Linked DNA regions of Homo sapiens: all the other regions are linked to region 1. Evidence: fine-mapped expression QTL. A gene starts in region 1. Each other region holds a variant in brackets. All regions are shown on one strand. Distances are between the middles of the regions.

Region 1 (4,067 bases):
GCGTGGAAAAGGGCTTGCTTGCTGCGCCATCCTGGCCATCTGTGCCACTGGAAGTGCTGGCAGAAAAGTGAAACAGAGACTGCAAAAGCAGGAAAGGAGAATGGTCTCTTTGCCTTGATTTCGTGTTATTTTGTCTTTGCCTTGATTTTGTAAGTTATTTTGTCCTGAACTCCTAAATAGGGTTGATAAACCAATCTCTCTGTCCTCACAAGTGGCCCTTCTCTGGCTGAGGACTGCCTCCAGAAAACCACCGTTTTAATACTCAGACTGTGTCTTAGGCATTGGCGCTGCTATAACAGAGTGTCTTAAACTGGGGAATTTGTAAACAACACAAATTTGTTGTTCACAGTTCTGGATGCTGGGAAATGCAATATCAACGTGCCAGCCAGTTCAGGGGCTGGTGAGGGTACGTTTCTCATAGATGGCACCTTCTGTGTCCTCACATGGCAGGAGGAGCAAAGGGGGCTTAAGGCCCGTTTTTATTTTTATTTATTTATTTAATTTATTTTTTGAGACGGAGTCTTGCTCTGTCGCCCAGGCTGGAGTGCAGTGGCACGATCTTGGCTCACAACCTCTGCCTCCCGGGTTCAAGCAATTCTCCTGTCTCAGCCTCCTGAGTAGCTAGGATTACAGGCGTGCACCACCACGCCCAGCTAATTTTTAAATATATTTTTGGTAGAGACAGGGTTTCACCATGTTGGCCAGGCTGGTCTCAAACTTCTGACCTCAAGTGATCCGCCCGCCTTGGCCTCCCAAAGTGCTGGGATTACAGATGTGAGCCACCACGACCGGTCTAAGGGCTGTTTTTAAAGGGCACTAATCTCATTCATGAGGGCAGAGTCTTCCAAAGGCTCCACTTCTTAATACTATCACCTTGGGAGTTAGGTTTCAACATATGAATTTGAGGGGGACACATACATTCAGACCATAGCAGGCCGTTTTTCCATTTCTTTTGGGTCCTAAATGATATTTGTTTCTGGAGTAGGAGGGCGTTCAAAGTCCTCTTTTGTTCTTCAGCACCCTTCGCTGAATTCAGGGGCAGATGGAGAAAGGCAAGAGGCACGGGGCAGCCTGTAGAAGCAGTATCTAGCACTGAGTCCCCAGTATCCCCTAGGCACGCCAGGAGAGCCTCCTGGAAATCCTCACTCAGCAGATCCAGGGTAGGAACGCGGCTTCTGTTGAATAGCCTTACATCGAGATATGCAGGTTGGGGGCGGTGGCTCACACCTGTAATCACAGCACTTTGGGAGGCTGAGGCGGGAGGATCATCTGAGGTCAGAATTCGAGACCAGCGTGGCTAACATAGTGAAACCCCGTCTCCACTAAAAATACAACAAATTAGCTGGGCGTGGTGGCGGGAACCTGTAATCCCAGCTCCTACGGAGGCTGAGACACGAGAATTACTTGTACCCAGAAGACAGGTTGCGGTGAGCCGAGAGCGCGCCCCTGCACTCCCACCTGGGCGACAGAGTGAGGCTGTCTCCCCCCTCCCCCCAAAAAACGAGAGAGATATGAGGCTCAGCTACCAAAGTCACGCGCGAGAAGGGAAATGCTTGTAGGTCCCTGCCCTTGGGGGAGAGCGGAGTGAAAACCGGCGCGTGGCCGGCGAGCACGGCCCCTCCCAGCGGAGGTCCTACAGGCGCCCGCGAGCCCCGCCTCTCCAGCTTCGCCGCGCCAGCACCCCGCCACCGGCGCTGGCTCTGAAGGGCCCCGGCGGCGGCCGCGTCTGCGCAAGCTCGGGACGGCCTCGGGAGGCGGGGCTGGCGCGGGGCGGACGCGGGGGCTGGCGCGGGGCGGACGCGGGGGCTGGCGCGGGGCGGACGCGGGGGCTGGCGCGGGGTGGCGGGCGGGGGCTGGCGCGGGGTGGCGGGCGGGGGCTGGCGCGGGGTGGCGGGCGGGGGCTGGCGCGGGGTGGCGGGCGGGGCCTGGTCCTGTGAGCGTTCGGAGACTGCGGGCGCGCAGACCTGTACTGGGCCCGCGCCCCGGCCCCTTACAGAGCTGGGTGTGTCCCTCCGAGTGCCCCCCGCTAGGGACTGTGCAGGCCGGAGCTAGGCAGGGACAGCGGGGCGAACCGGGCTGATAGAGTCGGTCCCTGCTCCTGTGAGGCTCTCACCGAATCCCTGCTGTTTCCGGGCAGCTGAAGAGCGCTGGGCCCTCGCGTCGCGGGCGTGGCTGTGGCCGTGTCTCCTGGTAGTCTGAGCCCACTGTGCGTGTGGATCCACGTGGGAGCTGGGTTCCAGAGCCTGGTCCTGAGGAGGAGCCGAGCCGGGGGTAGGAGGCCGGACTTGGCGAGGGAAGAGCACGACCCCGGGCAGCAGTGCGCCGCGCTGGGCGCACCGGGGTTTGCCGGCCCTGCTCTGGGCCCTGCAGGTCCGCTGGCCCCGCCGCGCCTAGTGGGGATGCCCCGTGTCCCCCAGGCAGCCCCAGCCTGCGTCCCGCTCCCTGAACCCTCGGGAGGACCACAGGGCTGTGGCCGAAAGACAGAGATTTGGACCTAGTGAAAGGACGCCGCTCCTTAGCCCCAGCTATGGACTCCACAGCATCAGGTTTGGCTCTGGAGCGTGCAGAGGGCCAGGAGCCCTCTTGGGGAGCTAGTACCGAGCCCGATATCAGGAGGACCCCAGGAAGAGGCCGGGGAATCCCACTGAAGGGTGAGGCTGTACTTCATCTGCCTTCCGTGTGGCGACATCTAACCTTCCAGACCCAGAAGGCTGAAGCCGCAGTCTCCTGGGTCTGGCAGGGGTCTCTAGATGACCGTGGCGGAGGTGGAGGGGATGGCCATGGAAAATTGTCCCAATGGCCAGAGGAGAGCAGAAGAGGATCTGATCTCTTCCTGCTGCGGCAGGGAGAGGGCAAGCAAACCCAAGAGGGAGTGGCCCTTGGCCAGGGATCAGAGGACGATAGGGCCATTTGGAGCCTTGTCATCCACCTCCTTAATCACCTCACTAATAAGGTTCTTCCAGTCGTTCTAGCTCAGCGGTGTATAAGGTCAGCAGTGTACATGGTGGGTATCTCCTCTGAGCCCCTTCCCCCAATAGCGTTGGGGGCAGGGCAATCCAGGTGACCCAGGAGGTTTTAAGCCAGTCCTAAGTTTAGAACGTCCTATCTCTAACCAGGTGGGCATTTTAATCCGACTGTTCATCCTTCAGTGCACATGCTCAAGGACACATAACTGGCCAGTGGAAGAACTGGGCCCAGTCCGTGGGCTTCCCACCCCCTCTTTTTTCCTTTATACCCTTGTTAATCAGTGTGGCTCTGGGAACAGCAGAGGCATTGCCCAGAAGTTCTCTAGAATTGCAGACTCTGGGGCCCCACACATCCTCAAACAGTGTCTTAGCAAGTCTTGAGCCAGAGTTTAACAAGATCCTCAGGGATCCACACACACATGAAGCTTGAGGAATGCCTAACTGTGCTATGCTTACACCCATGTTGTTAGCCTTAACTACTTCTCTGGCATGGTTTGGGTTAGTTTTTTTGTTTGTTTTAAGGCTTTTATGAACAGTATGATGCAAAGCTTTATAATGAAGGAGCTCTCAAGTGTGTTGCAGAGACCTAACAGAGCTTGGGAACACCAGGGGCAGCTTCTCAGAAAGAGGTGGCCTCTGAGCTGGGTTCCCAAGGATGAGGGGAGAGGTGTAACTTCCTCCCCTTAAAGCCTCATAATCCTGCATGGCCTTGCCTTGGGTCTTGTGTAATTGTTAACCTGTAGGCTAGATTTAAAGTTCCTTGAAGTTCTTTTCCATATTTATATTTCCAAAAGTCCTAGGAGATGACCTGCATACAGTATGCCCAGTAAATAACTTCAGTGGTATGGCCAGACTGGTCACACTTCACTCACTTGTAGACTGATGTGGGCTGTGGACAGGTGGGAGCCTCATGCAGCTGTGTACAGGGGCACTTCTCTCAATGTTTGAAGGCTAGAAGCTGCCTCTCAGATCCTTTTGATCCACTGGTGTCCTCAGAACAACGGAGGTGACATTCAGAGCTGTTCTGGGTCTCAGGCTTGGGAAGTCTGAGAGCTGTGTGTGCTGGCTGGGTCAGCTTCCCTTATGTCTCCTTCTACCTTC
Region 2 (4,067 bases), 460 kb after region 1:
AAGCATTCTATCAAACTTTTACTGCAACTGGATTTCAAGAAGGTAATGGCATATTAAAAAAGAACCCAGAAATAAACCCAAATACCTAAGAGCCAACTGATCTTTGCCTAAGCAAACAAAAACACAAACTGGGGAAAAGACACCCTATTCAACAAATTGTGCTGGAATAATTGGCTAGCTACACGTAGGAAGTGAAACTGGATCCTCGTCTCTCACCTTCTACAAAAATCAACTCAAAATGGATTAAGAACTTAAATCTGGCTGGGCGCTGTGGCTCATGTCTGTAATCTCAGCACTTTGGGAGGCTGGGACATGCGGATCACCTAAGGTCAAGAGTTCAAGACCTGCCTGGCCAACATGGCAAAACCCCATCTCTACTAAAAAAATACAGAAGTAAACCAGGCGTGGTGGCATGTGCCTGTAATCCTAGCTTGGGAGGCTGAGGCAGGAGACTCGCTTGAACCCAGGAGGCAGAGGTTACAGTGAGCTGAGATTGCACCACTGCACTCCAGCCTGGGGCTACAGCAAGACTCTATCTCAAAAATAAATAAATAAATAAATAAATAAATAAATAAATCTAAGACCTGAAACTGTAAAAATTGTAGAAGATAACATTGGAAACACACTTCTAGACATTGGCTTAGGCAAGGATTTCATGACAAGAACCCAAAAGCAAATGCAATAAAAACAAAGATAAATAGGTTGGAAATGATTAAACTAAAAAGCCTTTGCAAGGCCGAAGGAATGATCAGCTGTGTAAACAGGCAACCCACAGAGTGAGAGAAAATCTTCACAATCTATACATCTGACAAAAGACTAATATCCAAAACCTACAAGGAACTCAAAGAAATCAGTAAGAAAAAAAAAAAACCTCATCAAAAGTGAGCTAAGGACATGAATAGATAATTCTCCAAAGAAGATATACATAATGGCCAATAAACATATGAAAAAATGCTCAACATCACTAATGATCAGGGAAATGCAAATCAAAACCACAATGCAATACCACCTTACTCCTGCAAAAATAGCCCTAAGCAAAAAATCAAAAAACAGCAGATGTTGACATGGATGCGGTGATCAAGGAACACTTCTACACTGCTGGTGAGAATGTAAACTAGTACAGCCACTGTGGAAAACAGTGCGGAAATTCCTTAAAGAACTAAAAGTAGAACTACCATTTGATCCGGAAATCCTACTCCTGGATATCTACCCAGAGGAAAATAAGTCATTACACGAAAGATACTTGCACATGCGTGTTTATAGCAGAACAATTCGCAATTACAAAAACCTGGGACCTACCCAAATTACCATAAAACAACAAGTGGATAAAGACACTGTGGTGTGTGTGTGTGTGTGTGTGTGTGTGTGTGTGTGTATACACACACAATAGAATATTACTCAGCCATAAAAAGAAATGAATTCATGGCATTTGCAGCAACCTGAATGAGACTGGAGACTATTATTCTAAGTGAAGTAACTCAGGAATGGAAAATCAAACATTGTATGTTTTCACTCATAAATGGGAGCTAAGCTATGAGGATGAAAATGCATAAGAATTATACAATGGACTTTAGGGACTCAAGGGGAAAAGGTGGGAAGGGGGTGAGGGATAAAAGACTACAAATAGGGTGCAGTGTATACTGCTAGGGTGATGGGTGCACCAAAATCTCACAAATGGCCACTAAAGAACTTACTCATGTAACCAAACACCACCTGTTCCCCAATAACCTATGGAAATATATTTTATAAAAAAATTATAGAAGGAAAACAGCTATAATGTAGAATTTTATATGCAAATAAAATGCTATTGAACATTGAGAGCATTTTAAAAAATATTCCCAGACTCATCCTCCCTCAAGTGGTTTGCTACCCAAAGCAGGGTACTAAAAACATTTTTAGAGAAACTATTCAAACAAGAAAGTCAAATATAGATGGTATGTCAAGAACTATCAGATGTACAAATCATCTGATGTCATAAAAAATTTACTGTTATTCATTAATTTTCTTTTTAATAAATGTTTTATTGTTGTTTCACACCCCTAAAAAATATACAAATCATAAACATAGATCTCAATGGGTATATCATAATAAACATTCAATGGATATTATAAAATTTAAAAAGTAAGCTACTATTTTGCAATAAACATAAATAACCATGCAAGTTAG[A/G]GAACTAGCTATTACTGACAACCCAGAATTCTCCTAAACTCATTCCTAGGATAATATTTGCCTACCTTTTCCGGGTAACTAATGTCCTGACTTTCAACAATTTTCTCATAATGCTTTCTGGGTTTTCATTTTCAGATTTTGTATTGTAGTTAGTAAATTAATTCCTGTATAATTGATATTTCTGATGTTATTGTTAGAGGTATCTTTTTTTCAAATTTCAATTTTAGAAGTTCTTCTTTCCTTAAAAAAGAAATGCAATGGATTTCAAATATTATCTTATAGTCACATACCTTGTAAATGTATTCATATAATAGTTTATCTGTAAATTGTTCATTTTTTTGGTGAAAAATTAGCTTAATTGCTTCTCCTCAAGTTCTTATATCTTTTTTATTTCTTCTTTACTTTCTCACTAGCAATTTTGTCAGGTGTAAGGTTGAGCAAAGTTGATCATAGTATCATTTTCTCATTCCCAATGTCAGTAGGAAAATGTTCAACACTTCGCCATTACAGAGGTGTTCATCACAGTCATTTTGGAAGTAGCCTTTAATAATTTAAATATTTTTTCATCATTGCAACTTAGGTAATAGGTTTTGTCACTCATAGACTTTGGAATTTTTTTTTTTTTAGTTATAGAGAATGTCATATAATTTTTGGCTTTTATTCTGTTAAGAAAACACACTGCAGTTTTAAAATTTTGAATATGAAAACATGTTCATCCCTGTAACAAGCCCAGCCTGTTTGTGGTTTATATATTGCTGAGTTTTATGTATAATATTTAATTTAAATTATTTTTAGCTAGGTTGTAAGAGAGACTGGCCTGTTACTGTCTTTTCTTCTAATGTCCTTGTCACATTTCTATGTTAAAATTATCGGTAACCTTATAAAACAAGCTGAGAAATTTTTCAGTAGGGGAAATATGTAAATAATGTTAGTTTTCTTTCCTGTTAATATGTTTTGAAGAATTCTCTAGTGAAACATCTGGACCTAGAACTTTTGTACATATATGAGAAAAAGTTATTATGGATTTTAAAAATAGTTACAGGAATATTCCGATTTTTATGTCTTCTCATGTCAGTTTTGGTAAGTGACATTTTTCAAGTTTTTTACAAATTTTATTTAAACTGTCAAATATGTACTGCAATAATGTAGCTCATAACTTTGAATTTCTTTCTTCTATAGGATCAGTAGTAATACCTTTTCTTTTTATATTACTGTGCTCCCTCCCTCCCTCTCTCCCTCTCACACACTTTTTTTTGGTCTCTGAATTTTGTAAAAGGTTATTTTAACATTATTACAAGGAAAAACTTTTGGCTTTTTTTGATCCCCTTGATTATGTGATTCTTTTTGAATGTATTATTTTCCATTAATATCTCTTGTATGACTTCTATTTTCATTGGATTTGGTTTACTGTTTGGTTTTCAGCTTCTTTAAATGTACCATTTTTAAGCATGTTCTGTTTTCAACCTGTGGGTATTTGGACTACTGGCATTTAATCTTTTATTCTTTGCAATATCACCATTAAGGCTATAATTTTTTAAAAAAAATCAATAGCTTTAGGGATAAAGGGTTTTTGGTTACATGGTTGTATTGTATTGTGGTGAAGTCTGGGCTTTTAATATAGTCATCACCTGAATAGTGTACCCTGTACCCACTAGGCAAGTTTCCATCCCTCACTCCCCTGTCACCCTCCCCGCTCTGAGTCTCCAATGACCATTTTACCAATCTGTATGACTTTGCATAACCAAGGATATCCATTTTCTTGAGTTTCAATATCTCATACATTTATTCTCCTTTTCTTTTCTTTTTTTTTTTTTTTTTTTTTTGAGACGGAGTCTCGCTCTGTCCCCCAGGCTGGAGTGCAGTGGCGCGATCTCGGCTCACTGCAAGCTCCGCCCCGCTGG
Region 3 (4,067 bases), 140 kb after region 1:
AAGGGGACAGTGCAGGTGAGTCCTGGGGCCAGGGAGGCCTGTGACCTGTGTGAGAAGGTGGCTCCTGGGCAGACCCAGAAAGGCCAGGGACAGGCTGGGCTCAGGCAAAATGCAAAGGGTATGCCGCATACCTTGAACTTAGTCCATTCCCTCTGTTGAACCCCAAGAGTAAGACCCCTCTTCTTCCCTGTTTGGAGCCCACCTTCTCTGCCCCAGAGAGGGACTGGACCCTGCGCCTCCACAGGAGAGCTCACAACCTGCCCAGCAAGTTGCACCAGGAATTTGGCCCACGTTGCCCGAAACATCAGACCTGCAGGGCTGGGCCAGTGGATCTTTGGAATGTAGTCTCAGCATGTTTGGGGCTAGGCTGGTTTGCTCCAGTGCAAAGCATCTCCCTTCAGGTTTCACTTACAGCACCCCTCAGATGGCCGCTGCCTGCCTTCTTAGACTCTGGAGTGGTTGTTAAGTAAATAACAGAATTTCGCAGATGCATCCTGCAATGACCTTGGCCCCAGGCCTTTCCTGCTCAAACTTATACTTCCACCTGGGGCTTCCTCCAAAGGCGCCCCCCCCCCCGCCCCTTAGAGTGAGGTCACTCCCTCGTGGACGACCAGGAATCCACCTTCTAGAGAAGCCGCCTGGCCCTATAGTCAAGGAGAGAGACTGTGGCAGTGGAGGCTCTCCTGATAGATACCCTTCTTCTTAGCATTCCTATTTTCTGTTGGAAAAAAATGCACCCTTACTTAGAAAACAGACAAAAACGGCATTGTCCTAATGCCCCCGATTCTTCCAAATCAAGGCAACTATTTTCATTTCTGCACATGATCTTTTAGAACTCATAGAGAGGTGAATTCGTTCCTTCTCTGAGCTTCTCTTTCCAGCTGGTGACTTGGCCACTCATTCAGCCTCAAACACACTCCCCTAGTGTCACACACAGGCTCTGCGAGCACAGGGAGCCAGGCTGGACAGGGAGGCACATGTGGGAGCCTGAGAGGTGCAGGTGTAGGCACTCCAGGGTGGGGCCATCGAGACCTTCGACAAGGCCAATGTGGGTTCTCCTCTGGGGGAAGAAAGCAGGGTCCAGTGAGGGTTACTGTTTCTTCTGTCACTGGAATGATTGGCCAGGGCCAAGCACTTGGAGCACAGCCAGAAGAAACAGGGCACAGGGACCAGCCCAGATGTCTCTGAGTTGGCACAGGGGACTTGGAGATCAGGAACAGCATGAGATCAAGAAACACATCAAAACCATAAAACTCAACAAAGCAGAATGCAAAAACTTGCTGCAAAAGAAGAATGGAATGTTTGCATGGAGGGTAGTAGGAAATTGCTACTTCACGTCTCAGTGCGTAGTGCTTAGCGCAGCACCTGGCCCATGGGCAGGGCCATGAGTGCTTCTTGAAGGACAGGGAGAAAGGGCGGGGAAAATGAGCTCACAGGCAGGCGTCTGGAAAGCTGAGGAACCCTCAGACCCCACAGGGCCTGTCCTGTTGGTTTCCTAAACTTGCTGCCCATGACACAAACTGTGTCCTTTGGGTGCATTGGTTCCTGTTGTGGCAACAGACCTGTTTTTGAAGCAGTAGGGCCTAAAGGAAAAGGAAGGAAAAGCTCTTGGCTGCCCCGGGTCTTGGTCTATGATTCAGAACTGCTAAGCCTTAGAAGGAAGGGAGGGGACTCGCCACTGCCCCACCTGGATGACAGATGAGGAGGCGCCCAGAGAGGTGCACCTCAGAGGCATGTAGGAAACCAGAGGCTGGTGGGCAGAGGGCAGCCACAGCTGTGGAGGGGAGGGC[T/A]GCCTGCATCCGACCAGCCCGGTTTGTTTGGGAGTGACCCTGACCGTGCAGGACTAGGCATTGCATCGTGAGGAGGATTCAGACCCATCCCCTCTGCATCACCTCCCAGACCCCAAACCCCCCAGGCCCATCTCTTTCCAGACCCCACCATCTTTCCAAACTCTCACTTGCCAGAACCCGTCACCTCTCGATCCATCACCTTCCCCAAACCCCTTAAAAAATCAGAGAGGTCAGAATCTTGGCGCTACCCGGTCCTCCGAGACATGACAGTCTCTCCCCACCAGCTCCAGGCCCGATCACTTGCTCTTTATGTGGGAAAGGACAGTCTCTTCTCATGAAGTGTTTAATCCACTTGGCATAGGAGGCCTGTGTCCAGGCTGTGGGATGACACCCTGCCGTGGGTGGAAAAGGGACAGTGGATGTCCATGTGCTGACACCGGAGGATGCCGGGACAGCGTCCTTTCAAGGTAAAAGAGGAAGTGGCAGATCCGTGCTTAAAGCATAATCCATTTTTTGCTTCTAATAAAATGTGTCTGCAGATACAGAGGTAAATGCACACCTGGACGGACAGAAACTGCGCTCCTCACAACGGCTCCCTTTGAGGATGGTAGGATGGTATTGGGGGGTGAGAAAGCACTGGGCTGAGGGCAGGAAACGTCATTTTTTCGTTAAACAGTGGACAAAGGATGTAGAATTTGCAACTGAAAACCCACTAAAGGAACGCACACCTTGGCTCCAGCCTGCTGATCTGTGGAGGTCGCCTCCTTCTGCCTGGCCGGGAACTCCTGTGTGTTGCAGAGCTGGGCAGGAGACCTCGGATGCCACATTTCTGGGGACATCCTCTTTCTTTTCCCTACCCTCACATGGTCCCATCCTCTGCGAGGCAGGGCTAGAGGCAGGGCTAGGCAGAAAGGGCTGCATGTTTGCTGTCCCGGGGCGGCCCGGGGCTGCTGAGCGGCCCCTCCGTGCTGGCCTCGCTGCCCTGTGCCTTAGCCTTCCTTCCCAAGAAGGGGTTGCCTGTTTCGGTGCCTGACACCTCTGACCTGGGGCCCCTGGCTTTCTCTTCTGCCTACTGCCTTCCCCAGAGTTGGCTGCACACAGGGTCAGCGCGGCACCTCTGTCTTCTTCACAGGCACCATCCTCCCTCTGATCACATCATGAATGTGCCACAGAATTCCTCCCTTCTGCCAGACCTCAGAGAGCACTCAGATTAGAGTGACCTCGGGGCCTGGATTAAAAATCTCCCTTCTAGGACGGCTTGAGCCCGGTTGGTGGAGGCTGTAGTGAGCCGAGATCATGCCACTGAACTCCAGCCTGGGCTGTAGAGTGAGACTCTGTCTCAAAACAAACAAACAAACAAACGAACTCTCCCTTCTGCTATTTCCTTGCTGTGCAACTTTAGACAAATTACTTGACTTCTCGGTGCCTGGGTTTCCTTGTCTACACAATAGTGATGCTAATCTCTCTCCCAGGGCTGTCTGTGGATTAAACGAGATAATGTGTGTGAGTGCCCTTGGCAGTGTCTGGCATGAGGCAGCGCCCGGGACATGACAGCTGGTGTTGACATAAATAGAGGCCCCCTGGGCTCCCCCAGGATTCTTTGCTGTCCCACACGTGCCATGCCCTGTCTCACAGCTTCACTCTCAGGAGAAAAGTTTTCTCCCCTGTTTGAATGCAGCTTCTGTTAGGGAACATTCTGGCTGTCACACACACACCCAGATCCCTACCTCGTCTCCAGGCTGTCACCTCCCAGGCCTAAGGCTATTTCTGTACCTACCCTCCTAGCAAGTGGTAGTTCTTGTTCTGCTCATTGCAGGAGGCACCGCACCGTGAATTCCTATACAGCAGAAGATGGGACGGCCACCTGAGCCAACCCCACAGCTGACAGCTGAGCCTCCAGCGAAACCCAAGGCTGACACAACGTGAGTGCCTCACTGTGAGCTCTTACAAGGGGTCACTGTGGCCTTGCGATGCTAGGGAAGGAAAGCAAATTCAAAAAGCTTCCAGGGTTGTCATCAGCAAATAAAGTCTCTCAGCCCCAGTGGAAGCCCAGCCTTCATGGGAACCCAGCTCTCATGGGCTCACTCTCTCTACGGCTCACCAGACTGCCTGGTGCACTGACGGGGTCTCATTAGCCCTTAGTCACCTGCTGAGGTGGCTCTAAAGGTTTCACCTCCGGTGGCCTCTCGGGCCTGTGAGGGAGGGCTGGAGCCCGCCCAGCTCAGAAGTATGACAGGGCAGGCTCACCACTGGCACGTTCTGCTTGGGGTCAGGCCT
Region 4 (4,067 bases), 900 kb before region 1:
GGCGGTGGCTGGGCTTGGAGGGCTGCCAGGTTGCTGTGTTCCAGGCCAGAGCCTGCTCATCCCACCCTGGGGCAGGGATTGCAAGGCCAGCAGAGCACTTGCTGCTCCTCTGGGCAGCTGGGACAGCTTTGCCACACAGCACACACTCTTCCTCCTGCTGGGAATATCCAGACCCCACTCAGGCAGGTTCTTGCTCCTCAGAGGCTCCCAGTCTCAGCTCCTGACTCTGGCCACTGGATCCACCCCTGGGCTCTAGGCTTCTGCTGCTGCTCCCAGGGACTGCCAGCACAGAAAGCTCTTAGTAGTTAGTGCAGAAAACACTAATCTGGGCGAAGAATACCCAGGCCGGACACCTGGCCCTGCTCTTACCCTGCCAGGTGGCCTTGGGCAAGTCATGCCATTCCCTGGACCTGAGGCCTAACCTCTGGATGGCCTGGGATTCGGCCTGGGTCATCCAGACTTGAAGATGATGGCTGGTGGGCTCTACTTCCCTTCTCCAGGTGAAGAATCTATTCATTCATTCAGTCATTTGACATTCAACAAATATGTATTCAACACTGACTTTGTGCCAGCTTTTAGGCACTAGGATACCACAGGGAACAAACCTAGCAGTAATCCTTCCCCCTTTAAAGCTGATGTTCCAGGAGACCCATGTGCACAGGGTGACATCACTAAGCATTCTGAGATTAGATGGATGGATGTGTGGATGGATGAAGAGATGAATGAATAGATGGATGGATGGATGTGTGGATGGTTGAACAGATGAATGGATAGATGGATGGATGGATGGATGGATGGATGGATGAATGGATGGATAGATGGGTGGATGGATGGATGGATAGATGGGTGGATGGATGGATGGATAGATGTTTGGATGGATGGATAGATGGACAGACAGATGAATGAATGGATGGATGGATGGTAGATGGATGGATGGATGGTAGATGGATAGATAGATGGATAGATGAATGAATGGATGGAGGAATGGACAGATAGGTGGGTGGATGCATAGATGGGTAGACAGATGAATGGATGGATGGATGAATGAATGGATGGTAGATGGATAGATGGATGGACAGATGAATGAATGGATGGAGGAATGGATAGATAGGTGGGTGGATGCATAGATGGATAGACATATAAATACATGGATGGATGAATGGATGGATGGTAGATGGAAAGATGGATGAATGGATAGACAAATGGACAGGCAGATGAGTGAATGAATGGATCATTGGATGGATGGATAGATAGGTGGATGGACAGATGAATGAATGGATGGAGGAATGAGTAAATGGGTGGATAGATGCATGGATGGATAGACAGAAGAATGGATGGATTGGTGGGTAGATGGATGGATGGATAGATGGACAGACAGGTGAGTGAATGGATGAATGGATGGATGGTAGATGGATAGATGGATGGACAGATGAATGGATGGATGAATGGATGGGTAGATAGGTGGATAGATGGACAGACAGATGAACCAATGGATGGACAGGTAATGAGGAAGGGAAGAAGCCTGGGCCCCTGCTCTCCTCCTGCTCTCCTCCTGCTCTCCT[T/CCTGCTCTCCTT]CCTGTGGCCGCATTTCCATCTCAGGACAGAGCTCACTGGCTGGCTGGGTCTCCTGGATAGAAAGTGAAGGGGGCAGTGGCCTGACTGAGGCAGGGCTTGGGATGACAGTAGTTGGGCTCTGGGGAGACTTTGGTGATGGATGGGCTCGATGTCAGGGAAGGTGGCCGGGGAGGAGGTGGTAGGGGATGGGCTGAGTGTTATGGGCACAGGGGACACAGTTCAACCACGTGAGCCTGCCTCTCTTCTGCCTCTGTCTAGGTGGGAGACTCTCTTTGGGTTTGAAAACCCCAGTCTGAGATGTGCTGTTTCCCTTGTGCCCCACCAGGGCCCAGTGTGTAGCGTTCTGGGGACACCGGGTGTTGCTGAGAACGAATCAGGGAGCCATAGTCAGGGGGCTCAGTGCAGGGCAGGGGTGAAAGGAGCACCGGAAGCAAGCAGGCCTGGGAGTGGGGCATTTATTTACTATTTGTTGGGGCCATCCTGAAGGGGGTGCCCAGCAGGCTGGGGTGGCCTGCCACAGCCCTCAGTCCTCTCAGTAAGTCTGCAGCAAGAACCTGCTGGAAGCTGCAACATTCACAGCTGCAGGATGGGCAATTGGCTCTATGAGTCGGGCTCTGCTTCCATCTACAGGCCTAGATGTGAGGGCAGAGGAGCACTCAGCCTGCCGAAGGTCTGCACAGCTGGCCGGCAGCGGGCAAGATTGGAATTCACTCACCATGCAGCTACTGGGTGCCTGGCTACTGCTGGGAAGCAAGCTGAGGGCAAAGACTGCCCCACAGGGGCAAGATCGGGGCCCACCACAGGAGGTCACCCCCCAGGCATGCAGGGCACAGAGCTGGGGGGAATGAGCTCCCTCCCCATGCACCCCTCCCCAGCTGTCCCTGAGTCACTAGCGCCCTTCCCTTTCACTACCAGGGAGGCTCTGGAGCTGCTTCCTATCCCCCACTGTCCTGTGAGTCACCGCCCCACCCTCCAAGTCCCTCCCACATGGTGTGATCAGCATCCCTGCCTCTGCCCACGAAAGTGATTTCAAAAGGCAGAAGTGACAGGTGGTGGGTGGTTAGGCGGGCAGTGCCTCTCACCTCCCCATCCATCTCTCTTCTGTCAAGTGGGGCAGCAGCAGGGCCAAGAAGACTGAATTCAAAGCATCCTGGAAGGCCTCAGGTTGTCAAGGGCCCCAGGCAGCGCATGAGGCTTTGAGAGGGGCCCCTGCCTTGTGCCTGGGCAGGCTCCTTCCCTGCTCTGCACACTGTGTCTTGAGCAGGCTCTGGAACCCACCTTTCCACTATTAGAATGATAGACGGGCTGGATGTCAGGAAGGTGGAGTGTGTTCCTCCAGGTCACAGCCCTGGGCCTCTATGACAGCCCCTTTGAGATGAAGAGACCTGGGTGAGGAGTCTGCAGCGGGGGCGGTGGGGGCATCTTCAGTGCTCTGGCATGGGTTCATTCCTCAGGATGCTCCTGCAGCCACCCCAAGCTGAGGACAAGGCCCAGATCCACAGTGGCCTGGGAAGTGCTCCCAGCAGAGTGAGCAGAGCTGGGCTTCGGTGCTGTCTGCCCTCTGTCCTGCTGCAAGGCTAATCACCTTCTGGTTCTGGGCCTTGAATCCCTTTTACAGCATGGGGGCTGGATGCTCTTTGAGCTTCCTCCTGGCTTCGATCCTGGAAACTGACACCTACTTGTTTGCAGTTGTGTGACTTGGTCAAATCGTGTAACCTCTTGAGCCTCAATTTCATTCTGTGTGAATGAAACAGTGAAAGCCCTGAAGATTAGATTTTTGATAGAAGAATTGTAACAGCAGTGACCCCATAGCCCTTTACCATTTGCAAGGTGCTTCAGACAAAATATCTCACTGGTCCCTCCCAACAATTCTGCCACAAAAGGTGGTATTACTTTCATGCCCAGCTTACAGTTTGAGGAACGAAGGCCCAGCTATGGGGGCAGGTGCAGAGGTGGGCCTCGCTTCCAGGTCTCAGTCTCTGGATGAAGGGCAAGATCCCTGCAGCTAAGGACGAGGGAGTGGTGGCACAGAATGTCCGGCCTGCTGGTCTTTCTTTCCCAGCCTGGGGCATCTCTGTGAAGGCCGATGAGCGGAGGCCCCTCCCCAGGTGCTGGTGCCAGGCGGCGGGGAGCTGCTTCTGACAGCTGTGCAGAGAATCATCACTTCTCCATCGCTGCTAATAGCATGTTTAGCTTGCTGACTCCTCTGTTTGCCTGGTGCCTCCCACGGACCCAGAGCTTGGAGTTTCTTCATTGCCTGGGGTGGGGCAGGGTGGCAGAGGGGCATCTCTGCTCCCTGGCCCTGGCTGCAGCCAGCAGCTCCACCCAGGGCCCTGAACTTGGGAGGCGACTGCAGTTCCATGCCTTGGCTCCCAGCACCCCAGGGAAGTACATCTGGGCTCTGGAACAGCAGAAATGGCCTCCTGCAAATCTCCTACCCGACACAGGACCAAGTGTGGGAAGGCTCTGGTCCAAGGGGCTTTCTCCAACTCTCTGGACCACAG
Region 5 (4,067 bases), 520 kb before region 1:
TTTTAATACATGTATATTTTGAGATTTAGGATAAATTCCAAATTGTTTATAGTAGAATAACAGGTGATTATTATTTTCTTCTATGTTGCTTATCTCTGTTGTCTCAATGTTTGTTGGAAAAAATAAGTGTATTGCTTTCAAAATAAGAGGGAAAAAAAGTAGTCTGGAAAATTGTTTTCATTGCACATCTGTGGGAGTTGAAAATTGAGCCTAGAGCTTTTAAGACATTCTTGTATTCACGCATCTCAACAAATAATACTTATGGCCTAAGGTAAGCTAGCCCTGTGGTACTGCAGAAAAACCAAAGACCCACTACTTGCCCTCTGACAACTTATAGTTCTGCCACCCAGACAAGAGAAAATCCTTGTCTGGGTGACAAGGATTCAATCCCTGCCTTTGAGGTGAGAAATGAGGGCTCACCTCTGCCAAGGGCCTCTGAGGCTTCCACAGCTCCTTGGACTGAGGTTGGAGCCAGCACTGCCTTCTGTGCCCTGAGGGTCCCAGGGGATCAGGGTGTGGCTGAAGTAGTCTGGGCCTGCAGCTACTTCCTCAAGTCCACTCTCCCACCCGGACAGCCTGTCCCACTGCCCTTGGACACCCACCTCGTCACACTCTTCTGTTTCTCCCCTTCCCATCCTCTCTGTCAGGTTTCTTCCAGGCCACCTCCAAAGAGACCTGCTGCTCCACCCCCAATCTGTTGCTTGTGCCTTACTAGAGGTTTCTACCCTTTTCAGCGCCACATCCCAGGGAAGGAAGAAACATGCTCCAGGGCTGGAAGTTTGTCTTTGAGGGGAGGAAGTTCCCTGGAGTCTGCAGCAGATGGGGGAGGCCCCAGTGGGGCGCACGTGGATGCATTTCTGGGAGGAAACCAAGTACCATCCGCTCTCGCTCGCTCCCTTCCAGTGTTTTCTTCCCCCGGCGAGTCTCTTAATTTTACTCATTTATCTTAAAGAGCTCCGTAAGCGCCGTGGGCTCTGGTACGGGGTGGGGGGACGCACGGGGCCTCCGACACCCGACCCCCACGCCTGCTTCCCAGAGGAGCCGTCCAGCGCGGACCAAATCTCATTTTCCTACAAATAGTTTGTCAGAAGCAGGAGGGCAAGCACTAAACCACGGAGAGCGAGAGCGGAGAGAGAACGGGGAAGACTGGCGAGGGGAGGGCGGGCCCGAGGGGGCGGAGGGAGGGTTGGCTGCGCAGAGGGAGTAGCGCGAGGGAGGGTGCGAGCGGCGGGGAGGGGCGCAGGCCGGGGAGAGACAAACGGAAAAGGAGGGAAGGAGATCGAAGAGACAAACAGGAAAACACGAGGGAGGATGAGAAAGGGAGAAGGAGCCAGGGGAGTCCAGGGAAAGGAAGCAAAGGGAGAGGGAGAGACTGAAGAGAGGAACGGAAAAGACTGGAAAAGATAGCAAAGGGTGAATCAGGAAGCAGAGAAGGGGAAATGAGAGGAGAAAATGAATCCAAAGAGGATGCGAAAAAGGAGGAAGGAGAGAGGTCTGGTAGAGAGGCAGACCCGGAAAAGGAACGTGGGCAAGGGGGTGCTCCATGTGTCCTGAGCCCCCTCTATGCCCTGAGCCACAGGGGTGCCTGTAGTCTGACTCCTTGACCCTGTCTTCCCCATCCTTATCCCTGCTGCCTGCTCTCCGTGGACTGATGCAGGATGCAGATAAGGATGGGCTCATCTTGGTCCACTGTTAGCCAGCCTAGGAGACAGTCATTGCAGTGTGTGTGTGTGTGTGTGTGTGTGTGTGTGTGTGTGTGTGTGTGTG[TGTGTGTGTGTGA/A]TGGAGACAGGGAGGGGAACCTGCATACCAACTATTATGATGAAGACATGCGTCCTTAAGCAGGCTACTTCACTCTTCTGAGCCTCAGTTTTCTGATCTAGAAAATGGGAACAATAATCTCTCTTTGCAGTCTTGGGAGAATTGAAAGAGATGACCCACAGGAAAAGAATCTACCACAAGGTGAAGGCTGTTGGTTAGGAAACGCAGCCTCCCTTGAGTTTCTGTGTGGGTGAACCTGGCTCCTGGGGCCCCACGTGGGAGTGCCAGGCTTCAGAATCTGCACACTGCTTCACCACCCCCGCAGCCTGTGATCCCAAGCCAGGCCCTCTGATCCGGCAGCTGTCAACACAAGCACACTCCAGTGCTTTCTGCTTTGCTGTTGGCCTCCCTCGGGAAGCTTTGAACACTAGTGAGATCATCATTGTCAAACTCTCTGGGCTCTGGTGCAAGGGCAGTCAGATAAGGAGGAATATGACGTGCCAACCCTCCTCTTTGGTCCCCAGCCCCCAGCCTCACCCTGCTGACCTCTGGCTCCTGCTTAGCTCAGGAACTGTGGGCTCAGAACAAAGTTTGAGGTTCTGCTTCTCTGATTCACCCCTTTCTCCTTCCTGATTACTGGCATGGAGCCAGGCACTGCAGGACAGAAATCAGGTAACTTTACAGATGGGAGGAATGAAGTGGTGCTTGTAGGGGCCTATGTTGTGCTGGGCACCAAAGTAAACTGCATGAGGACAGGGACCTTGTCTGCATGGCCCACAGAACTATCCTAGCACAGTGCTGGCACATGTTGGTTCATGAAATGAATGAGTCATTTGATATTGTGAATATGCATTCACTTATTCACACCTTATGACTAAAAAAAAAGCTGTTATTCCATTTTATGGAAAGGGCAACTGAGACACAAAATCACAGGAAGGAAGTGATCAAACCAGGGGTTGAATCCAGAGCAATCTGTCTCCAAAGCATGTGTTCCTTCCGCTGCAGCCCATGGCCTCCAAGCATCCTGCCCGTCGATGCCTGAGGCACCAGGGAGTTAGGAATGGCAGAGACCCAAACCCGTGATTCCTGCTGGACCTTCTCCTTCCCCTTAGATTCTGGAGAGGGCACCCCATAGAGCACTCCATTTGAGGTGGTCCCTTCATTTCTGGGCTCTTGCCATTGGCATTGTCCTCTAGCTCTGGACTTCAGGCTATGCCACTCTCAGACCCTCAGCCCTGGCCCCCTTCCCTACTTGGAACTTTGAAGATGAGGACACGTGCCTCAGAACTTCTCTCACCTCAGCTCTTAGGACCCCAGCCATACCTGCTCTGTCCCCCTCCCGTCTAACCCCCCAGCAACGTGGGCTTCCTCTGGGGACCTCATGTCCAACCCTGACAAGCAGCAGAGCCCAGGGAAAAGAGAATCAGGTTCTGCTCTCCTGCCATGTACCAGTTAGATGACTCTGGGCAATTCTTTCACCTCTCCAGGACTCAGTTTCTCAACTGGAAAATGGGGATTTTTAAAAAAATCCATGCCTAACTCCCAAGGCTGTCATGAGAATGGATTAAGGCAAAAGCTGTGAAAGTGCTTTACAAATGAGAAAGCCTCCTATTTTTCACTTTCTTCTGATGGCAGATCCCCAGGTCTCCTTCCCAAGGTTCTTGCTCTCCCCGCACAATGTACCCTGAGCACTGCAGGTGCCTGTCCACCTTCGCTTCATGAAGAACCATGATATGTCACCATATAAAATCCAAATAAAGCCTCACGAGTGAATCTACTTACAGGAGACAGAATAAAGCAATGACTAAGAGCTCTAGCAAGAGTAAAAAATCAAGTCTCCAATTTTTAGCTCTTCCACTTACTAACAGTGTTAACTTTGAACAATCATTTTACCTCTCTAAGCCTCAGTTTCCCCATCTATAAAGTGGGATAATAATAATACCTGTCTTATCAGGTAGATAATGTATATGTAGCATTCCTGTCTTATCAAGTAGATAATGTATATGTAGCACTAGGGACATATTAAATACTCAATAAATGGCTTCTATTGTTATCTCCTCTTATTTTAGTCTCGACTCTTGAAAAATGAATCAGTTGTCAGACTTCATAGCTTGTCACCTCTCTCTCGATGGCCCCAGTGTCAGTTCCTTGGTGCATGTCCTTGTTTTGTCCTCCTTCAGTGATGACCACAGCCTCCTTTTCTGGCCCCCAAGTCACCCACCGCACTGTGTTCTGACCTTATCACCACCATGGGTTCCCAGGGAGCCAGACCACATGAGGAGGAGGGAATGCAGATGAGGGGAGGGGAC
Region 6 (4,067 bases), 210 kb before region 1:
TTTTCTGTGTGCTGTGGGGTTGGTATTTCAAATCTGAAAACAAGATTTGAAAACACGGTCTGCTTCTATGTGCAGAGCCCTCAGAGTGTGGCTCAGAGTCGAGGGGTCCTGTGGTCACAGGGCAGGCGGGGAGCGTCAGTGTGCCTGGCGGGCTTGCGGCATAAAAATAACCCGCGCAGCTTATCGACAAGTTATTATTACCCCGTGTGGCCGGGGCCTTCTGGCCCCATGTGCTTCTCTGTGCTTTCCTGTTAGCTGCCCTTAGCCCAGTGGAAGCCAAGCTGTCGGGGTATCGATCAAGCCGGCTCTCAGAAAGGTTTTCCTCCCCAAAGCGGTTTCAGCTTTTCGCCTGCAGCTATTTTTAGAGGCTTGGGCTCCGCAGATGGGGCCTCTCTCCAATGATCCTGTGTGGCGGGGCTGGGGAGGAGCCCAGGCCAGGACCCCACAGGGAAGCTGTCTGGGTGGGGGACAGGCTTCTCCTTCCGCCAGTGGGTAACACCAGGCTTTGCTCTCAGTGCCCAGCTGGGATGAGCCCTGGAGGCTGCTCCGGCTGGGATGTTTTCTAGATATTTTTGGCCTATTTTCTGGGTAACAAGGAGTAAATTCTGAAAATGGAGGTCTCACATCCCACCGTCAGCAAACCAGGCCTCTGAGTTAAGCCCTGATCCCTTTGAAAATGCAAATTCCCGCTGGGTCACTACCACCCGTGTGTGTCTCGGGGGCTCCCTTGACCAGGCAGAGCTGGATGCAAACTCTCAAATGGAAGAAAAGGCTGAGAACGTGGTGCCGGCCCAGCAAAGTCAAACACCCCAGAGCTCACTGGCCCAGGGCCAGCCACATCCACTCATTCCCAGGGTGACTCACAAGATCCTTCCCACCCAGGACCATGGCTCTCTCGACAGCCCTGACAGTGACGCCAGGGTAAGGATTCACTCCTGCAACCACAGGGGCAGGACACGTGGGAGGAATCCGCGAGGACCTACCTCAAAGTGGATGGCCCCGTTCCCGTCCGCATCAAAGGCGTTGAAGAGGAAGTGTGCATAGGTGGTGGCATCTGGGGAGGGCAAGGAAGAGGCTGGGGTGTGTCGGGGCTGCCTGGCGGCTCATCTCCCACCCCAGGCAACCCCAGCTGAGGGTGCTAACTGCGTCCTGGCTTGGAGTCCCTGTTTCCCACGGGACAGGGGCAGCACCAAGCCTCCAGGATGCAAGGGGCAGCAGGAGGGTCCCCTCCCTCCACACTGGGACACAGCAGGGCTGCCCTGCCTCAGACTCACCTCCCTGAGGGAAGAACTGCGCGTAAATGAGTTTGAAGGTGTCTTCGTCCACCAGGCCCGTGGGACACTCCTGCAGCAGGAAGGCACCCCCTCAGCCCTCGGCCACCCCCAGCTCCAAGCCCGACTCTGCATGGTGCCTGGCTGGCCTCTCTCCACCCCCTTGGGGGCTGCCTGCTGCCTGTGGCACTGCTGGGGCCCCCTGGCCTGGGTTGTGGAAAGCCTGGGTAGAGGTGGGGTGAGAGGGAGGAGGGGTGAATAGGAAGGGGGTGACTGCTCCCCCATACCCTCCTCCTCTGTACCAGCAGCAAAGACACGGAGGGAGGAGCATGGCGGCCTCAGCGATGCCCATTCCGGAGCCTGCCCCCGCCACACAGCTTTCCCACAACACATAAGCCCCTTAAAGGCCCCTGGGATATTTACTGTGGCATGGAGAAGTTTCCAGGTCTCCCTGAGCCAGGGTCTCCAAGGCCTCTCCCGGGGGAATGGG[G/C]AACACTCACATTCTTAAAGCCCCTGTAGAGAGACTGCAGCTCCTTCTTGGTGAACTTGGTCTGGGCCTGCAGCTGGTCCAGCCCCTCTGGCTGGTGGCGCACCGTGGACAGCTCCAGCTCACTGTCGCTGCTATCTGGAGTGGGACACAGACCAGAGAGTGTAAGGCCTGTAGCCCTGCTCCTCCATCTTGCTCCAGTGTGGCCAGGGCATGGGCCAAAATAGCAGGTGGAGGAACTCTCTTTGCATGACTACCATGGACAGCCACACAGGCTGTGCACTGCACAGAGGGGGTGTGACTGAGTGGCCCACACAAGAGCTGTGCCTCTGCTTTCCTGCCCCCCACAGGGCGGGCCTCCCCATCGCAGCCCCTGCAGTGTGCCCCCCTGTCAGCCGCACAGTGGGACAAGGTGGGAGCTGCTCTTGTCCTAAAGAGGCACTGAACAAGGGGATATAGGAGGGGGAAAGACAGCAAGACAGGCATGAGGGACACTTGAACTTCAGTATCCAATTCCTAGACCACTTCCTCCATGTGGCCCTCCCTGACTTTCCCCAGGAATGGAGAGGGTGCCTCCCTTGGCCCTCAAGGCCTAAGGCGATGCTGTTCAGCTACAGTTGGCAGAGGGGTGTTATTCACATCTGGTTAGGAGGCTAAACCTCCAGGGCTGTGGGGGCAGGGATCAGACCTGTCCTTTAAAAACAATACACAAACTTGGCAGGGTGCGGTGACTCACACCTGTAATCCCAGCACTTTGGGAGGCTGAGGCAGATCACGAGGTCAGGAGATCGAGACCATCCTGGCTAACACGGTGAAACCCCGTCTCTAATAAAAATACAAAAAATTAGCCAGGCATGGTGGCGGGCGCCTGTAGTCCCAGCTACTCGGGAGGCTGAGGCAGGAGAATGGTGTGAACCGGGGAGGCGGAGCTTGCAGTGAGCCGCGATCGCGCCACTGAACTCCAGCCTGGGTGACAGAGCAAGACTGCATCTCAAAAAAAAAAAAAAAAAAAAAAAAAACCACAAACTTGTTAACTAACCATGGCTACATTTGAGGGGGAGGTGCAATTTCAGGTGATTTTTACTTTTTTATTTATGATTTTAAAAAACATTTTCCTAATTTCTTTTGGTGTGACATGCATCACTTTTACAATGCAAAATAAAGCTAGGGCTGAAACAGCACTGAGTGCCCACACCTTGCTGAGCAGCATCCTCGCATAATTACAGAGCGCCACCTTCCCACAGACCCAGGACTCATGGGCCCCGCTGCACCGTCGCCCTGTCTCCCCTGGGCCACACAGAATGGTGGTGATCCATAATCACCCTCATGGCTGGTACTCTGGTGCTGGCTGCTGCCTCTCCCACTGCACAGTGAGCTCTTCAGGGGCAGCTGTCCTGCACAGCTCATCCTGTGCCCGTGGTGCCTGGCATGGTGCTGGGCACTGGTCCTGTGCTGAGCTTGCTCCATACCCAGGCCTCTCCCGAGAGCGTGGTGGGAAAGACAGCCTGCACTGCCCACTCACACTAACCACAAGAGCACCCTGAAAGCTGCTCAGCAATTGGGCTGTTTCTTTGGTCCACACATGCTCCCCATCTCCAAGATAACTATTTCATACCATCCTTCCCCTTAAGTTTCCAGTATCTCCTCTCCCATCCTTACCCTCAGGTTGCTTCCCACTTCACTGAGAAGACACAAGCCATGGAGGAAAACTTCCCCAAGCCCTCACCCCACACCTACCCACCTGCCTGCACCTGGCCCAGACGTCTGCACGCCTGCCTGCTCCATGGCTGAACTGTGCCTGCTCCCAGCAAAGGCAAACCTGCCACTTGTGCAGTGGGTCCCGATCCCTCTCACCTACTCAGGCAAGCGGTGCCAGCCAAGTCTCCCACTCTTTCCTCATCACCTTTTCCCCTCTTCTGGATCATTCCCATCACCATATAGACATACTGTAGTATCTCGAATCCTTAGTCATATTAAGTATAGGCAAACCCTGTAAACCAGCATCCCACGCCAGGCAAGCATCCCACATAGACTCTTCCCCTGCCCAGGGGCCTGCACAAGGATGCTCACAGCAACAGCATTTTTGGCAGGAGAGTTGGAGGCAACTCAGGGGTTTATGGCAGGCAGGATGGGTAGGCAAAATATGGAGGCTGCACACTGGGGAGAACTGTGCCGTGGAGCAGATGTACACACAGCAGCGTGGATGGATGGATGGATGGATGGATGGTAAGAATCCTTTGATTAAGAGGCAGACTTTTCAGACTGGAAAAGCAAGATCCAATTATATCCTGTTTACAAGAGGGATACTC
Region 7 (4,067 bases), 87 kb after region 1:
GCAGGAGTGAAATCTCCTTTCCTGCCCGCAGGAAGCCACGTGGGCTTCAGTGGCCGTTTTGATTTGCGCCTATGAATCAGACGCTGGCCAGATCACCCTCCATAGCCCCTGCCCACGCCTAGGGAAGGACAATGGGGTCAGCCATGCGGTTGGCCAGGTATTGAGGGCTTGTTCATGGTGTCTTTGTGGGCCTGACAGAAGCCTTTGAGGCCATTAACACCCAAACCCTTCCACTCAATGTTGGGCAGGCTGAGAACTCTTCTAAGAATCTAAGAGTCAGCCTGAAGTATCGGGTGGGGTGGGGCTTCACTAGGATGGCAGCCACGGTGCCCTCACCCTCACCCCAGGCAGTTCCATGGTCAAAAGGCTCACTCTGTCCCAGGCCCTCCTCTCTAACGTTGCCCTCCCTGTCACAGACTGGGATGACTCAAGTCCTGGACTGCCCCCGGGCCAGCTGTCACCCGAGTGGGGTGGGAGTGGGGTGACTGCCTGCCCAGCGGTCAGGGCAGCAGCCACCCAGCTGCTCATTAACTCAGAGGCAGCCACTGGCTTCAGGGAGGCCCTCTCCCCAGGACTTCCCAGCCTGTCCATGCTTGAAGAGCTCTGTTTAATATACATATATTTTAAATTTGCACATTGGTCCTCTACCCAATACGCATGTTAATAGTAGGTACACTTCTAGTAACTGTCGATGGAGATATAAGTTTGTAAAAAGCTGCTCTGAGGTTAGCGGTGTTTTTAACGTAGGCACCATGAGCACAGGTATACATTTTGGAAAACAACACTGGAGGGTATAAGGGGCTTGGACTGCTTATGAATGCACAAAGCTAGTTCCCAGAGCCCTCAGGATGGAAGCCACAGGTTTAGGGTCCCCTTGAGTTCCCAGTGAGAGCTGGACTCAGCAGTGTGCACCCAGACACACACATTCCTGCTCCACTTGGGCTAGAATTAGCATGGTGACCATGCCATCTCTGAGACCTTCCAGGAACCCTTTGATCTCAATGATGATGAGGCTGAGGCCAGAACCTTCCAGTACCTTCTCAGTCAGTGGTTTTCAAACCTGGCTGACCATAAATGAACCTTCTGAAAAAGCTCTTTAAAAATGCAGATTTCTCGCCAGATGCAGTGGCTTACCCCTGGAATCCCAGCGTTTTCAGAGGCTGAGGCAGGGAGACTGCTTAAAGCCAGGAGTTTGTGACCAGCCTGGGCAACATAGGGAGACCGTGTCTCTACAAAAAATTAAAATTAGCTGGGCATGGTGGCATGCACCTGTAGTCCCAGATACTTAGGAGGCTGAGGCAGGAGGATGCTTGAGCCCAAGAGTTCAAGGCTGCAGTGATCTGTGATTGCACCACTGCACTCCAGCCTCAGCAACAGAGAGAGAGAGAGAGATGCTGTCTCAAAAAAAAAAATGCAGATTTCAATATCCATCACCTGGCAACTGGATCAGAATTTCCAAGGCTTGGGTCCTGGGCTGTATTTTTTAAAGCTCTCAAGTCCAGGCAACACACAAAGAAAATGGCATGTCAATTCCATGGATGCCTCCAAAGGTGAAAATCCCAAAAAAATTATGGCACTTCTATAGAACATTACAGTAGTCCTGTGGTGGAAACTTCTGAAATAAGAATTATTCCCTTTTCTAGGTGAAGCTTTTCTTAGATTCCTTTGGTATCTGACAGATGAAGTTTTGAGACACCAACAGATGGAGGCCAGTTAAAAGGCTGCTCATCTCTGGTCATCTCTCTTTCAAGGTGCAATTTCTCCTGAGCCTGAATGTCCTGGACTCCAGAACTGGCGGCTCATGTGGCCCCACAGGTGGACACAGATGGGTTTGGCTGCAATCCACAGGCAGGCTCTGAGACTGGGACTCGGTGGGCACGGGGTGTTCTGGCTCTTGGTTATAGCCTTTAAAGCAGAAAGCACAGGTCTGGGCCATAGCCTTCCCAGGCTATGGGAGCTGACCTTCCTAGGAAGGGGATCACAGATCGTGGTGGAACTTGCCTGAGTTCATGGGTCCTGATTTGATCTCTCAGCCTTTCTCCCTGAGAAGGAAATATCCTCATATGATGGGGTTGGGGTGTCCCTAGGGCTGCCAGAACAATGGCCCCAGGACTGGTTGAACAATAGTCTATGACTGTAATTTTCTAGGGCATCAGTTTAAAAGAAGAAAGGCTTGTGATCGATCTGCTCCAAGAGAGACCCTAAAAACTGATAAGTCACACCCATTCTTGATAAGTCTCTTGGCAAACTAGGAGTAGAAGGGAACCTCGTTGAGATAAATGTGCTTACTAGAGTAAGCCTGGGACTGAATGGTAAAACCTTAGAAGCATTTCTTCTTTTGCTGTAGGGAACAGGGCATGCATGCCTGCTCGTTAACCACTCAATTCTGTCTTGGGAGCTGACCCAGCACAGCAAGCCAAGAGGAGGGACAGAAAGGAACAAAGCAGTCTTCATTCCAGGGGACATGATTGTCCACACAGATAATCCAAGAGGATCAATGGCAGACTCTTAGAGCAAATGCAAGTAAGGCTCAAGGTGGCCCGATACAGGTT[A/G]CCCCATAAAAAATCATAAGGTGGCCAATGCCCCAGCAATGGCCAGTTAGAAAAAGTAACGTAAAAGAGATCCCAGGCATGGAGCACAAGTTACAGAGACCACAGGAAGCGGGAGGACTTCATGCTAAGTGAAATAAGCTGGACACAGACCGACAAATACCGTATGATCTCACATGTGCAAGCCGAGAAAGTTGAACTCATAGAAGCAGAAAGTAGAATGGTGGTTACTTTGAGGAGATAGTAGTCAAAGTATACGCAATTTCAGTGGGGAAGAATAAATTCAGGAGTGATCTGTTGCACAACATGGTGACAATAGCTATAATAGTGTATTGCATTCTTTAAAATTGCTAAGAGAGTAGATTTCAAATGTTCTCACTGCAGAAAAATATGTGAGGTAATGCATATATTAATTAGCTTGATTTAGCCATTCCACAATGTACACATATATCAAAACATCGTGTTGTACACCATAAATATATACAATTTTTGTTGGTTAAGTATTCTTTTTTTTTTTGAGATGGAGTCTTGCTCTGTCGCCCAGGCTGGAGTGCAGTGGCACAATGTCGGCTCACTGCAAGCTCCGCCTCCCGGGTTCATGCCATTCTCCTGCCTCAGCCTCCCAAGTAGCTGGGACTACAGGTACCCGCCACCACGCCCGGCTAATTTTTTGTATTTTTAGTAGAGATGGGGTTTCACCATGTTAGCCAGGATGGGTTAAGTATTCTTATATTTAAATATATATATAATATATATTATATATTATATTACATACAATATATTATATAATATATAATATATTACATTATATAATATATTATATAATATACTATGTTATATAATATATTATATAATATATCACATTATATAATATATTATATAAAATAATATATAATATATAATATATTATGTATTATATATAATATACATTATATATATAATATATATATAATATATATAATATAATATATTATAACATAATATATATTATATAATACATAATATATTATATAATTATATAATATATATTATATATTATAACATAATATATATTATATAATACATAATATATTAATTATATTATATATAATAATATATAATATATATTATATCATATATAATATATTATGTATTATATAATGCATAACATATATATGATATAATATATAATATAAAATATAATATATAATATGTAATATATAAATATATAATATGTAATATAATATATAATATGTAATATAATATATAATATAATATATATACATATTATATATAATATATAATATGTATATATATTATATATATTATATGTTGGTGAGAGGATAGAACGAAATAGACTCATACATTTTGGGGTCACATTTTATATATATATATATATAATATATATATAGTACTCAATGCCAGACATTCTTTTCAGTGTGTTGACTATTCTGTTCTTGCAACACCTTTAAGAAGTTGGCATCATTTCCAGAATAGGCAAAGAAATTAATGGAACAGGCCAGGCGCAGTGGCTCATGC

Evidence for each region.
Region 2: its variant is fine-mapped to the expression of ZNF514 in whole blood (INTERVAL, PIP 0.98).
Region 3: its variant is fine-mapped to the expression of ZNF514 in whole blood (TOPMed, PIP 0.98).
Region 4: its variant is fine-mapped to the expression of ZNF514 in subcutaneous fat (FUSION, PIP 0.95).
Region 5: its variant is fine-mapped to the expression of ZNF514 in whole blood (INTERVAL, PIP above 0.99).
Region 6: its variant is fine-mapped to the expression of ZNF514 in whole blood (TOPMed, PIP 0.97).
Region 7: its variant is fine-mapped to the expression of ZNF514 in thyroid (GTEx, PIP 0.97).

What each region holds. Positions count from the first base shown.
Region 1 is chr2:95,157,444-95,161,510 of GRCh38, reverse strand. It overlaps ZNF514 (zinc finger protein 514), which reads left to right and starts at 1,663. Exons shown (of 5, transcript NM_032788.3): 1 at 1,663-2,271. RefSeq lists a silencer at 1,587-1,836.
Region 2 is chr2:94,695,443-94,699,509 of GRCh38, reverse strand. No RefSeq gene overlaps it. Among named protein-coding and RNA genes, the nearest start is that of FAM95A, 64 kb to the left of the region's middle. The variant A/G (reference allele first, on the strand shown) is at 2,167.
Region 3 is chr2:95,016,723-95,020,789 of GRCh38, reverse strand. It overlaps MAL-AS1 (MAL antisense RNA 1), which reads left to right. Exons shown (of 8, transcript XR_007087136.1): 5 at 3,607-3,712. Among named protein-coding and RNA genes, the nearest start is that of MAL, 7.0 kb to the left of the region's middle. The variant T/A (reference allele first, on the strand shown) is at 1,791.
Region 4 is chr2:96,061,741-96,065,807 of GRCh38, reverse strand. No RefSeq gene overlaps it. Among named protein-coding and RNA genes, the nearest start is that of GPAT2, 29 kb to the right of the region's middle. The variant T/CCTGCTCTCCTT (reference allele first, on the strand shown) is at 1,563.
Region 5 is chr2:95,679,858-95,683,924 of GRCh38, reverse strand. No RefSeq gene overlaps it. Among named protein-coding and RNA genes, the nearest start is that of TRIM43, 90 kb to the right of the region's middle. RefSeq lists an enhancer at 156-656. The variant TGTGTGTGTGTGA/A (reference allele first, on the strand shown) is at 1,768.
Region 6 is chr2:95,372,125-95,376,191 of GRCh38, reverse strand. KCNIP3 (potassium voltage-gated channel interacting protein 3) reads right to left here. Exons shown (of 9, transcript NM_013434.5): 3 at 1,772-1,896; 4 at 1,275-1,344; 5 at 984-1,054. Among named protein-coding and RNA genes, the nearest start is that of FAHD2A, 29 kb to the left of the region's middle. RefSeq lists enhancers at 57-635, 1,217-1,796. The variant G/C (reference allele first, on the strand shown) is at 1,762.
Region 7 is chr2:95,070,419-95,074,485 of GRCh38, reverse strand. All of the region lies in intron 1 of LOC124907857 (a long non-coding RNA gene), which reads left to right. Among named protein-coding and RNA genes, the nearest start is that of MAL-AS1, 45 kb to the right of the region's middle. The variant A/G (reference allele first, on the strand shown) is at 2,553.